Homo sapiens: one gene and its partners. The protein of the gene in region 2 interacts with the protein of the main gene of each other region in a pairwise test. Each region holds a gene or a part of one and is shown on either strand. Other genes may lie near its edges.

Region 1 (3,400 bases), on a different chromosome or scaffold from region 2:
CTGTGGAAATGATATAAGCCTAATAAGTGTTTTTAAATACCTTCTCCTGTCTATTACAAAAGTACACATTATATAGAAAATGTGGAAATTATAGGGCAGAAGACAAAATAAAATAAAAATCACTCCAGATTATGTAGAAATAACCAACTACTGTTAACTTTTAGGTTTATAAACTTCCAATTATTTTGATTTTCTTTACATATATTAAATTTATTTTTTTCCTTTTCTATAACCTAAGTGATACATATTAAATTTAAAATATTTAAGCCTCTTCCAAAAGCATTTTTTATAAAGTGGTATCTTTTTTTTTTTTTTTTTGAGACAGAGTCTCGCTGTCACCCAAGCTGGAGTGCAGTGGTGCAATCTCTGCTCACTGCAAGCTCCGCCTCTCAGGTTCACACCATTCTCCTGCCTCAGCCTCCTGAGTAGCTGGGACTACAGGCACCCACCACCACACCCGGCTAATTTTTTTTGTATTTTAAGTAGAGACAGGGTTTCACCGTGTTAGCCAGGATGGTCTCGATCTCCTGACCTTGTGATCTGCCCGCCTCAGCCTCCCAAAGTGCTGGGATTACAGGCATGAGCCACCGTGTCTGGCCAGAAAGTGGTATCTTAAAAGTGAACTCCGCTTTCAAGATTTTTGGAGAATGATTGCTGTAACCCAGAAAACAAAAAGGCACCTCATTAAAGATGCTTGCCTACCATTGCAGAGATCAGATATTAAGAATGAGCTGAGGATCTTAGATTGCAGTTATAAATACCGAACTATGGCACTTTTCATCCCAAAGAAACTGGACTTCCACATAAACTCATTTTTTTCCTAATTGTAGACAATTTGAAAAAATTAGAAGAGAAAAAGTCCATTTCACCACTTAAAGCCAACCATAGCTATCACTTTTATATGCTCCTTAAAGTCTTTTTTTTCATATTTTAAGCTAATTTGTCGCTCAAGCTGTATATACAAATTTGCATCTTGATGTTTAACCCAGTATGGTAGCACACTTATTTCCTCATGTTATGACATACTTTTATTATAATAATTTTACAACTGTTTATTATATAATTGTACCATAATTTACTTAAACCATTGTCTACTTTTGAATTTTCTATTATCCTAATTATACTGTGATGAATGTTTCTGTGGACAAAGCTTTCTTTCTTCTGAGGGTTATTTCTTGCTGATAGATTCCTGGAGAGAGAATTATATGTCAAAGGTGTTAATGAAAATTTCTAGTTTTTGTTATTTTCTGAAAGAGTTGGTTTATATCTGTGTCTTTTGGCAAAATCACTTTCAGCATTAGAAAGTGGGACACTAATCTGAAAAATGGGACAAATATATTTATGGAGTATTGGGGGGCAGAATATTTGAAATTGAAACTATTCAAAGAAATCCATTTCTTTTGGTTGCTGTATTCACAAATAATATATCATGATTACATTTTGGAGGAAACTTTCGGAGGGATTAAGGAGATATTAAGTTCATGAATTCGGTAAAGATCTTTGTGTATGGTAGATGTCTTCTGTCTTAAAGAACTATCAGTAATGTACCCTGATCAAGTGTCCTTTAAGAACTAAACTAATCTGGGCCAGGCGCGGTGGCTTACATCCGTAATCCCAGCACTTTGGGAGGCTGAGGCAGGTGGATCACCTGAGATCAGGAGTTCGAGACCAGCCTTTTCAACATGGAGAAACCCTGTCTCTACTAAAAATACAAAATTAGCCGGGCGTGGTGGTGCATGTCGGTAATCCCAGCTACTCGGGAGGCTGAGACGGGAGAATCACTTGAACCTGGGAGGCGGAGATTTCAGTGAGCTGAGATCGCACCATTGTACTCTAGCCTGGGCATACAGAGCAAGACTCCGTCTCAAAAAAAAAACAAAAACAAAAACAAAAAAACAAAACAAAAAAACAACAACTAAACTAATCTGAGTACTATCAAATTTTTTAAAAACACTACTTCTCTGTAATGTAAATGGGTACAGGAAAGCTTTATAAGCTATAGCTCCTTGTCAGTGTTATTTTCTCTCAAGTCTGTTCCATTTTGTTTGGTCCAAAACATTTTGGTAGATGCTGCTATCAAAGCATAGTCTTAATGGGAAGTGGAAGTAGGATCACTATAACAGGAACTCAATACATACTGAATTAGCTTATTATTTAACTCAGTAAGTACTTGTTTAAACTGAATGTTTAAAATTAGACATTGTCAGGCCAGGCCCAGTGGCTCATACCTGTAATCCCAGCACTTTCGGAGGCCAAGGTGGGCAGATCACTTGAGGTCAGGAGTTCAAGACCAGCCTGGCCAACATGGTGAAACCCTGTCTCTACTAAAAATACAAAAATTAGCCGGGCGTGGTAGCGGGCACCTGTAATCCCAGCTACTTGGGAGGCCGAGGCAGGAGAATCACTTGAACCCGGAAGATAGAGGTTGCAGTGAGCTGAGATCATGCCACTGCACTCCAGCCTGGGCAACAGAGTGAGACTCTCCAAAAATAAATAAATAAAATAATAAAAAAATAAAACCAGACATTATAAATGGGCCTCAGCAATAGTGTTTTATAACAAGTACATATTATCAAAAAACAACTGAGATCACTCTTACTAACCTATGTTTCTGAAACAGATGTCTGAGGATAAAAAGGATGAAGGCAGTGGGACAAGTACTTCAGTAAGGAAAGGTGAGAACCAGTGCATATTTGGTGTTGGACTATGAGGGGAAGAATATGTGTGGTGTTGCATGCCTGTAGTCCCAGCTACTCAGAAGGCTGAGGCAGGAGGATTGCTTGAGCTAAGCAGTTCAAGACCACAGCTTGAGAACATAGTGAGACCCAGTACCAAAAAAAAAAAAAAAAAAAAAAGAAAAGAAAAGAAAAAGAAAAAAAGAAAAATGAAATAAAGACAAAGAAAGAAATTTGTGCTGAGTGTGGAAAGCAAAAAACAGAGATGAACAGCCAACAGCATTGTAAGACTTTGCACACTAGAGGAGGCCCATTGGGGTTGGGTGAGTTTTTGCTTTGGACTCCCTAGTGCAGAGGGACAGTTTAGCTGCTTAGCAAGAAGCTATGAATTACTGGGAGGTGGAACTCAAGTTCTTTTTTCACTCCTTAGCTCTCTCCCTTCACATTGCTTGCCCTTCCCACATCCTCATGGTTAGTGCTATTACAGGATTATGAACTGTCTATGACATCTTTTTCAATAACCTATAAGCAGTGGTGCACTGGTAAATGTTTAACAACTGGTTCTCCAAAACTCCTGTGTGTACATATGCTTACTAAAAATTTTACTGATATAAAGGTTGCACGTCATCTCAGCACCTCCAGAGGCTGAAGCAGGAGAACTGCTTGAGGCCAGGAGTTCAAGATCAGCCTGGAGAACATAGCAAAACCCTGTCTTTTTAAAAAAG
Region 2 (3,658 bases):
TTTGTTTTTGGTTGTTTCAAGACAACCAAAGAGAGCAAATCTGAGAGTAAATCTGGCCCGTTACTTCATCTTGGTCGTAAAAGGAAGTCAGTTTTTTAAGCAGTTTTAGAGAGTTAGAATTGATGGCTTGTAAGGTTTCTTTCAATCCTGAGATCTTTGGCTTCATATTACATACCTTTAACAGCTTATTTTCCCATCTTCACATTATCCTTTTCTCTCCTCAAAACACTTAACTATCTGCATTTGTGCTTAGAAGGCTTGTTGGGATTAACTCTGGGCTGTGAATGAACCGTATTCATGATACAAACACATTTCATAGAATGATGACAATCAAGATGTAACAACAGAAAAATGTTTTCTATAATATTCTTAATATATTTATATGATAGAACAGCTATAATGTAATCTTCTAGATTATGGCCAAAGAGTTTCTTTCGGGAACTAGGCAAATAAGATTTTAATTGAAATCTTTCATTTTTAATAACCACAGAATTATGCAACTTTTACATTCTGAAGTAATTACAGTATCCTTTCATTTTATTGGAAAATATTCAACTGTAATATTAAGTAGGATATCTCAAAACCTGTATTTCCCTTAAAGGGAAGAGGAAGAAAAATGACCTTAGCTTTTTAACACTGCCACTGATAATTTCCATTCTATTTTATTGAAAAGTAAACCTTCAGTAGTGACCTATTGTCTGAGTTATAGCTCATAGTCTAAAATACATTGTGTATATAAAGAAAACATATGAGGTACCATATTAATAAAAGATAGTGGTAGTTCTGTTACCCAGTTTCACTTCAGTTTTGAGTATAACATGCTTAAGTATGTATATCTTTATTAATTAAAGTATGTATATCTTTATTATACAAGATTATGTCTCCACATTTTCAGTTCTTTTTCCTAATAAATGGGCTAGTAATAGTTAAAACAGATACCGCTAGGTTTATCTTTTAAATAATGAAATTCAAGTGTTTTCTTATGCTAGGGATTATGGTTTTGAGGTATGGTTAAGTCCTGGAAATAATACTAGTTATTTTTTGATTAGATGGTATTTCTTAAAGCCAACTATTTTTTTTCTGTTTTTTTCTACATCACTCAAACAAGATTTATAATCAGTAAGAGAGATGCTGTAATAGTAAAAGACTCCCTTGGCCAGGCGCGGTGGCTAATCCCAGCACTTTGGGAGGCCGAGGCGGGCGGATCACGAGGTCAGGAGATGAGACCACGATGAAACCCCGTCTCTACTAAAAATACAAAAATTAGCCGGGCGTGGTGGCCGGCGCTTGTAGTCCCAGCTACTCGGGAGGCTGAGGCAGGAGAATAGCGCGAACCCAGGAGGCGGAGCTTGCAGCGAGCCAAGATCGCGCCACTGCACTGCAGCCTGGGCGACAGAGCAAGACTCTGTCTCAAAAAAAAAAGGACTCCCTTGTAGTGAGTTAAATTTTTCAAGATACTTGGTTATCATTTCGTTTACTAAAATAATAAATGACTAAGGAGAGTTAAGACCATTATTTGTGGTATATTGGCCATAAGAAGTTTTCTTCTGTCCTATGTTTTATACAGACATGTTACCAAAAAAAAAAAAATACGCATTGCAGCATTTGCCACAGAAAGCATCCAGGTTTTTCTACTCATTAAAAAAGTGGCTAGGACTGATAACCTGTAGTGATCTTCCAGGTTTTGCTGCAGTGAGAAAACCATTACTGTTAAAAACCTGCTGTCATATCACATTATCCTTCTCAACAAGCACTTTGTTACAATGGAAGTTCTCTTTGCAGTGGAGTCCTCCTTGCCTCCCTTGTCCTAAGTTAAACCTCTATTTTTAGAGTTAAGAATCATTAAAGACATGGAAGAGTTCGCACAACTGGTTGTGGCATGAACGATAGCATGTAATTTTATAAATGTATAAATGGTTTTTGAATTTTTTTCTCTGCTGATAAGGATGATTAAATTCTTCATGTTTTTTCTTTATATAGACTCCAAACCTTTCTAGACTTGTAGGAAATCTGTTGATGCATAATACAGTGGAAAGAATTATGTGATCTAATGTGCAAATAATCTACTGGAGGACATTGGATATAAAAATGTTTTCTTAATGTGTTTTTCAGATGTCTGTGAGCTTTTGAAGTTGTTCTTTCCCCCACTTAATTTTAAGTCTCCTAGATTGGCTGAGCTGAGCAGTAGAAATTAATGAGGTAGAATGCTTGAGTTGAATAAACTGGGAGAAAATCTCTCTCTCCAGTAAACCGTTATTACTGTAACAGAAACAGTTTCTATAAACTCAGTTCCCAAATGGTCATAAGCTTTAGTTGGGAAATGGTGCGGTAATTGAAATACTATGTTAATAAAGAGTTATAGGCAATATAATTTTCAAATAATTAGAGAACAGTAGAATATATGTAATACAGACTATGCTGACGTAATTTTAATGTTTCTTTGATTCAAGTTATAGCTGTGTAGACATAATAGTTAAAAGTATTATACATAGTTTATTGTTTTTTAAGGTATTTTAAAAAATTCTCCCAGGCCAGGCTCAGTGGCTCACACCTGTAATCCCAGCACTTTGGGAGGCCAAGACAGGCAGATCACCTGAGGTCAGGACCAGCCTGGCTAACATGGTGAAACCTTGTCTCTACTAAAAATACAAAAATTAGCTGGGAGTGGTAGGCAGATGCCTGTAGTCCCAGCTACTCAGGAAGCTGAGATGGAAGGATCACTTGAACCCAGGAGGCAGAGGTTGCAGTAAGCCAAGATTGTGCCACTGCATTCCAGCCTGGGTGACGGAGTGAGACTCCATCTCAAAAAAAAAAAAAAATTCTCCTAGTATTTACTGAATATTCTAAATTATATTAGTACCTCTCATAGTTCTCTGCATGTAGTAGTCACGTAGCTAAGTTTACTGAAGCCACAAACAAATTTGATATCCTTAAGGGAACAAAATTCTGATTGATTCTGATCTGTGTCTTTCAGAAAAATCACTACCAATATAATGGATTTTATATATCAGATTGCTTTATTCTGGATATCATGGTAACAATACAGAAAGTATACATAATTTCCCATTTCTGCAAGTAGTCATGACTGCTGAAGAAAGAAAAACTTAAAGCTACGGCAGAATTATTTTATGGAAATTCTGATTTTGTTTTTAATTTTTGATAACTTTTTACTAAAGGTATGAACACACAAAGAGCTTATTTTGTTAGGCAAATACACATTAATAAGAATGCCTAGAAGAGGACTGATTCTTCACACCCGGACCCACTGGTTGCTGTTGGGCCTTGCTTTGCTCTGCAGTTTGGTATTATTTATGTACCTCCTGGAATGTGCCCCCCAGACTGATGGAAATGCATCTCTTCCTGGTGTTGTTGGGGAAAATTATGGTAAAGAGTATTATCAAGCCCTCCTACAGGAACAAGAAGAACATTATCAGACCAGGGCAACCAGTCTGAAACGCCAAATTGCCCAACTAAAACAAGAATTACAAGAAATGAGTGAGAAGATGCGGTCACTGCAAGAAAGAAGGAATGTAGGGGCTAATGGCATAGGCTATCAGAGCAACAAAGAGCAAGCACCTAGTGATCTTTTAGAGTTTCTTCATTCCCAAATTGACAAAGCTGAAGTTAGCATAGGGGCCAAACTACCCAGTGAGTATGG
Region 3 (3,658 bases), on a different chromosome or scaffold from region 2:
ATAATATTTGTTGTCTATTTCATTGTTATTTCCATGAACTATCTTTCCATGATTTCAAGGAGCTTCACATTTGCGTTTTAACATAGCCAACACATCATGGCATGAAATTTGTAAAATGGGAAAGAAAAGTGTAAATACAAAATTTAAACATATGAGAGATTCATAATGAATTTTGAAAAATTATTTTGCTGGGCATGGTAGCTCATGCCTGTAATCCCAGCACTTTGGGAGGTTGAAGGGGGCAGATTGCTTGAGCCCAGGAGTTTGAGACCAACCTGGGCAACATAGTGAGACCCTAGCTCTACAAAAAATACAAAAACTAGCTGGGTGTGGTAGTGTGTTCCTGTAGTCCCAGCTGCTTGAGGGGGCTGAGGTGGGAAGACCACTGGACCCTGGGAGGCTGAGGCTGCAGTGAGTTCTAATTCAGCCACTGCACTCCAGCCTGGCCAACAGAATGAGACACTGCCTCTAAAAAACAAAAAAAGAAAAGATAAATCATATCAGGAGAGATGTCATACAGTCTTAAGGAAGATGAACAGTGGATTTAATAATTTATTTTGGTTTCAAAAAACATTAGGCTGTCAATCTTATGGATGTTTACTGCTGTATATTGTAGTATAAGGAATTAAAACTTCCTGGCATTTTTAATCAATAGAGATGTCTTTTTATGGTAGTTAAATTTTTTCTTCTAATATTATAAGTGGCACTGTCACCCTCTTCTTTATAATATCTTACATAGTGTACAGATGTTATCTGTAAAATATTTTAAGTTCTATATACTGATGTTAATCATTGCAGTGCTATGTTTTGGAAGTTAAATAAGCAGATGCTTCATATTATTAACTTAAATGGCTTAATTTTGATTTGCCATTAATTATACTTAATGGTTTATGAATAGATTTGTGTGGAGACCTTTTAATCTTTTAGTCAAATAAATTTCTGTTTTAGGAACCATGTTCAGCAATCTCGGGGTATGGAAAGAAAATTGACAAGTCCATTAAAAAAGGCCTTTATTGGCTGCTACATGTTATTGCAAGAGACTTTGATGCCTTAAATGAACGCATCCAAAAAGAGACAACAGAGCAGCGTGCTCTTGAGGAACAAGAGAAACAAGAAAGAGCTGAACGAGTGCGAAAATTACGAGAAGAAAGGTAAGTAGATTAATTTTGTACCACAGTGCATTTGAAGGATCAAAAACATAACAATTTTATGAATCAGTTGTTAGTTTTATCTGTTCAGTTTCTTCTTTCTGTGTGAAGGAAGACACTAGGTAAATTTTGTATTTCTGTGGATCTTTTTCTGTACAAGTTTGGGTGGTAGATTCCTAATTTTTCTGGTGGTTGTATAATAGTTAAATTTACTCCTTACGTAGCCATTGTCTTCCAGAGTTTTAAATTTTTGTCTCTGATTGCTTGTGGGTACCTTAGTGCAGTGGTTCTCAATGCACAGGGTAGTTTTTAACATTTGGCAGTGTCTGGAGACATTTTTAGTTTTCACCACTAGGGGAAGGAGTGGAGTACTACTTGGAATCTATTGGGTAGAGGCCAGGGATGCAGCTAAACATCCTATGACACACAGGACAGTCTCCCACAACAAAGAATTATCAGGCTTAATATGTCAATAACGTTGAGACTGAGGAACCTTTTTAGTTTCAGCAAGGATAGAAGGTGAGCTGCTAGAGAATCATTCAACTCAAGCAAAATCTGATCCATAGTTGCCTTCCATCTGGCCTTTTATGTAGTTTAACATAGTTGTAGCCCAGTGAGCAAGAACTCACTACCCTTGGTGACCCATTATGAGGTACTTCCTTATACCGTGAAGGAAATCCTCTGATAACTGGTATTTTTCATTTAATTCATCAATAGGACTTAAAGAAATATTTATAGAAATGACTCTCTATCCCCAAGTGCTCAATAATATGAGCGTGCCTTTCATCTAGGGATCTCTTTATATAAAAGACAGATTAGAGTGAATGATTTTGGCAGCTGTTGATACAAGGTTTTAGTTCCTGTGAGAATATTTGTTTTTTTCTTAGTATGTATTTTTATCATATAAAGCTCAGTACAACCAATCATGCATGTTAAGTATACCTTTTATATATAATATTTATAAAAATTAAATATATGGCCATAATTATGTGAAAACTCCTTTTCCTCCACTAAGAAAATAAAAACAGAAGCAACAAAAAAATTGAGTTGGATAAAAGAAATCTAATGTTAGTAACTTTTTAAATGTTTTTGCCTTTTCCATAATGATATTCTAGATCATGTTATGGCAGGCTTTTCCAATACTCCTTACCCTTTCTTTCTTTCTCTTTATCCATGCCAGTTGTGGTCTGAGACCTCTCCTCTTGAGGAGACCTCTTCTGTTGAGCCAATACTCCATAATTAAAAGCAAATTGACATTCGGAGACGGGTGATTAAAAACAAGCTTTTTACTTCACTAAATCCAATCTAATTGGTTCAGATAGTCATTTCTAGTGTTTTTGAAAAACAGTAAAACATGCCAAGTAAAAATAATATATTAATACTGTATTCCTGAAGTTGCTTACTAATAAATAAAATTAATAACAATGACTATCCTATGAGAAAGTTAATTCACAGAGTGTTCTCACATATATTACTTTATCTGACCCTTGATACAGCTCTATGAAGTGGTTATTTTTATTCACATTTGTGGGAAAGCTAAGGCTCAAAAGATCCAGGTCCAAAGTCACAGAAGTAGTAAATTGCAAATCTCCAAATCTTGGCTTCCTAGGTTCATAATAAAAGGATATGTATTTCCATCTAGAACACAGCTAGTAAATATTATGGTAATGAACATTTACATTGCTATACCATACTTACAGTCCAGTTAAAGATCCACAATACTTGTGTTTCTTTCTTTTTTTTTTTTTTGGTCTCTGGCTGCTCTTTTTTTTTTTTTTTTTTTTTTTTTGAGGTGGAATTTTGCTCTTGTTGCCCAGGCTGGAGTGCAATGGCGCAGTCTCGGCGCACTGCAACCTCCGTCTCCCAGGTTCAAGCGATTCTCCTGCCTCAGCCTCCCGAGTAATGGGGATAACAGGCATGCACCACCACACCCGGCTAATTTTGTATTTTCAGTAGAGACAGGGTTTCACCATGTTGATTAGGCTGGTCTCAAACTCCTGACCTCGTGATCCACCCGCCTCGGCCTCCCAAAATGCTGGGATTACAGGCGTGAGCCACCGCACCCGGCCGGCTGCTCATCTTAATAACATTACTCATCATGTATGGAACAACATTACTATAAATCACAGAGATAGTAAATGTTCAGTGGTAACTAATATGGAAATACTTATTTAATCTGAATGATACATATGGTAACTTATTTTTATAGCCACTGAACACTATTATGGAAGTTATTATCTAGTTCAAATATGATACACAACTTGATAAAATATTTTATATTACTACTCTGTCATATACTTCTATAGAATCAATCTGTAGATATTCTAGTCTTTTATTCTTTTATACTAAACAAGAAACATGTTTATGCAGAAATAAAAACATAGGTTGAGTTGAAGGAATGTTTTCCTAGTTTTGTAAGAGAAGACTTAGCCCTTAAGAAAAGAATTAATAAGAATAATTACTATTTGGCTGGGCGCGGTGGCTCACACCTGTAATCCCAGCACTTTGGG

The links.
Region 1: the proteins of CSGALNACT2 (region 2) and SSMEM1 interact in binary tests that used the Homo sapiens proteins (3 or more experiments, as listed by UniProt).
Region 3: the proteins of CSGALNACT2 (region 2) and ARL13B interact in binary tests that used the Homo sapiens proteins (3 or more experiments, as listed by UniProt).

What each region holds. Positions count from the first base shown.
Region 1 is NC_000007.14:130,210,860-130,214,259, forward strand, and holds part of SSMEM1 (serine-rich single-pass membrane protein 1), read left to right. Parts: intron 1-2,620; coding exon 2,621-2,675; intron 2,676-3,400.
Region 2 is NC_000010.11:43,151,923-43,155,580, forward strand, and holds part of CSGALNACT2 (chondroitin sulfate N-acetylgalactosaminyltransferase 2), read left to right. Parts: intron 1-2,974; 5' UTR 2,975-3,227; coding exon 3,228-3,658. UniProt on the Homo sapiens protein: Transfers 1,4-N-acetylgalactosamine (GalNAc) from UDP-GalNAc to the non-reducing end of glucuronic acid (GlcUA). Required for addition of the first GalNAc to the core tetrasaccharide linker and for elongation of chondroitin chains.
Region 3 is NC_000003.12:94,035,604-94,039,261, forward strand, and holds part of ARL13B (ADP-ribosylation factor-like protein 13B), read left to right. Parts: intron 1-948; coding exon 949-1,151; intron 1,152-3,658. UniProt on the Homo sapiens protein: Cilium-specific protein required to control the microtubule-based, ciliary axoneme structure. May act by maintaining the association between IFT subcomplexes A and B. Binds GTP but is not able to hydrolyze fit; the GTPase activity remains unclear.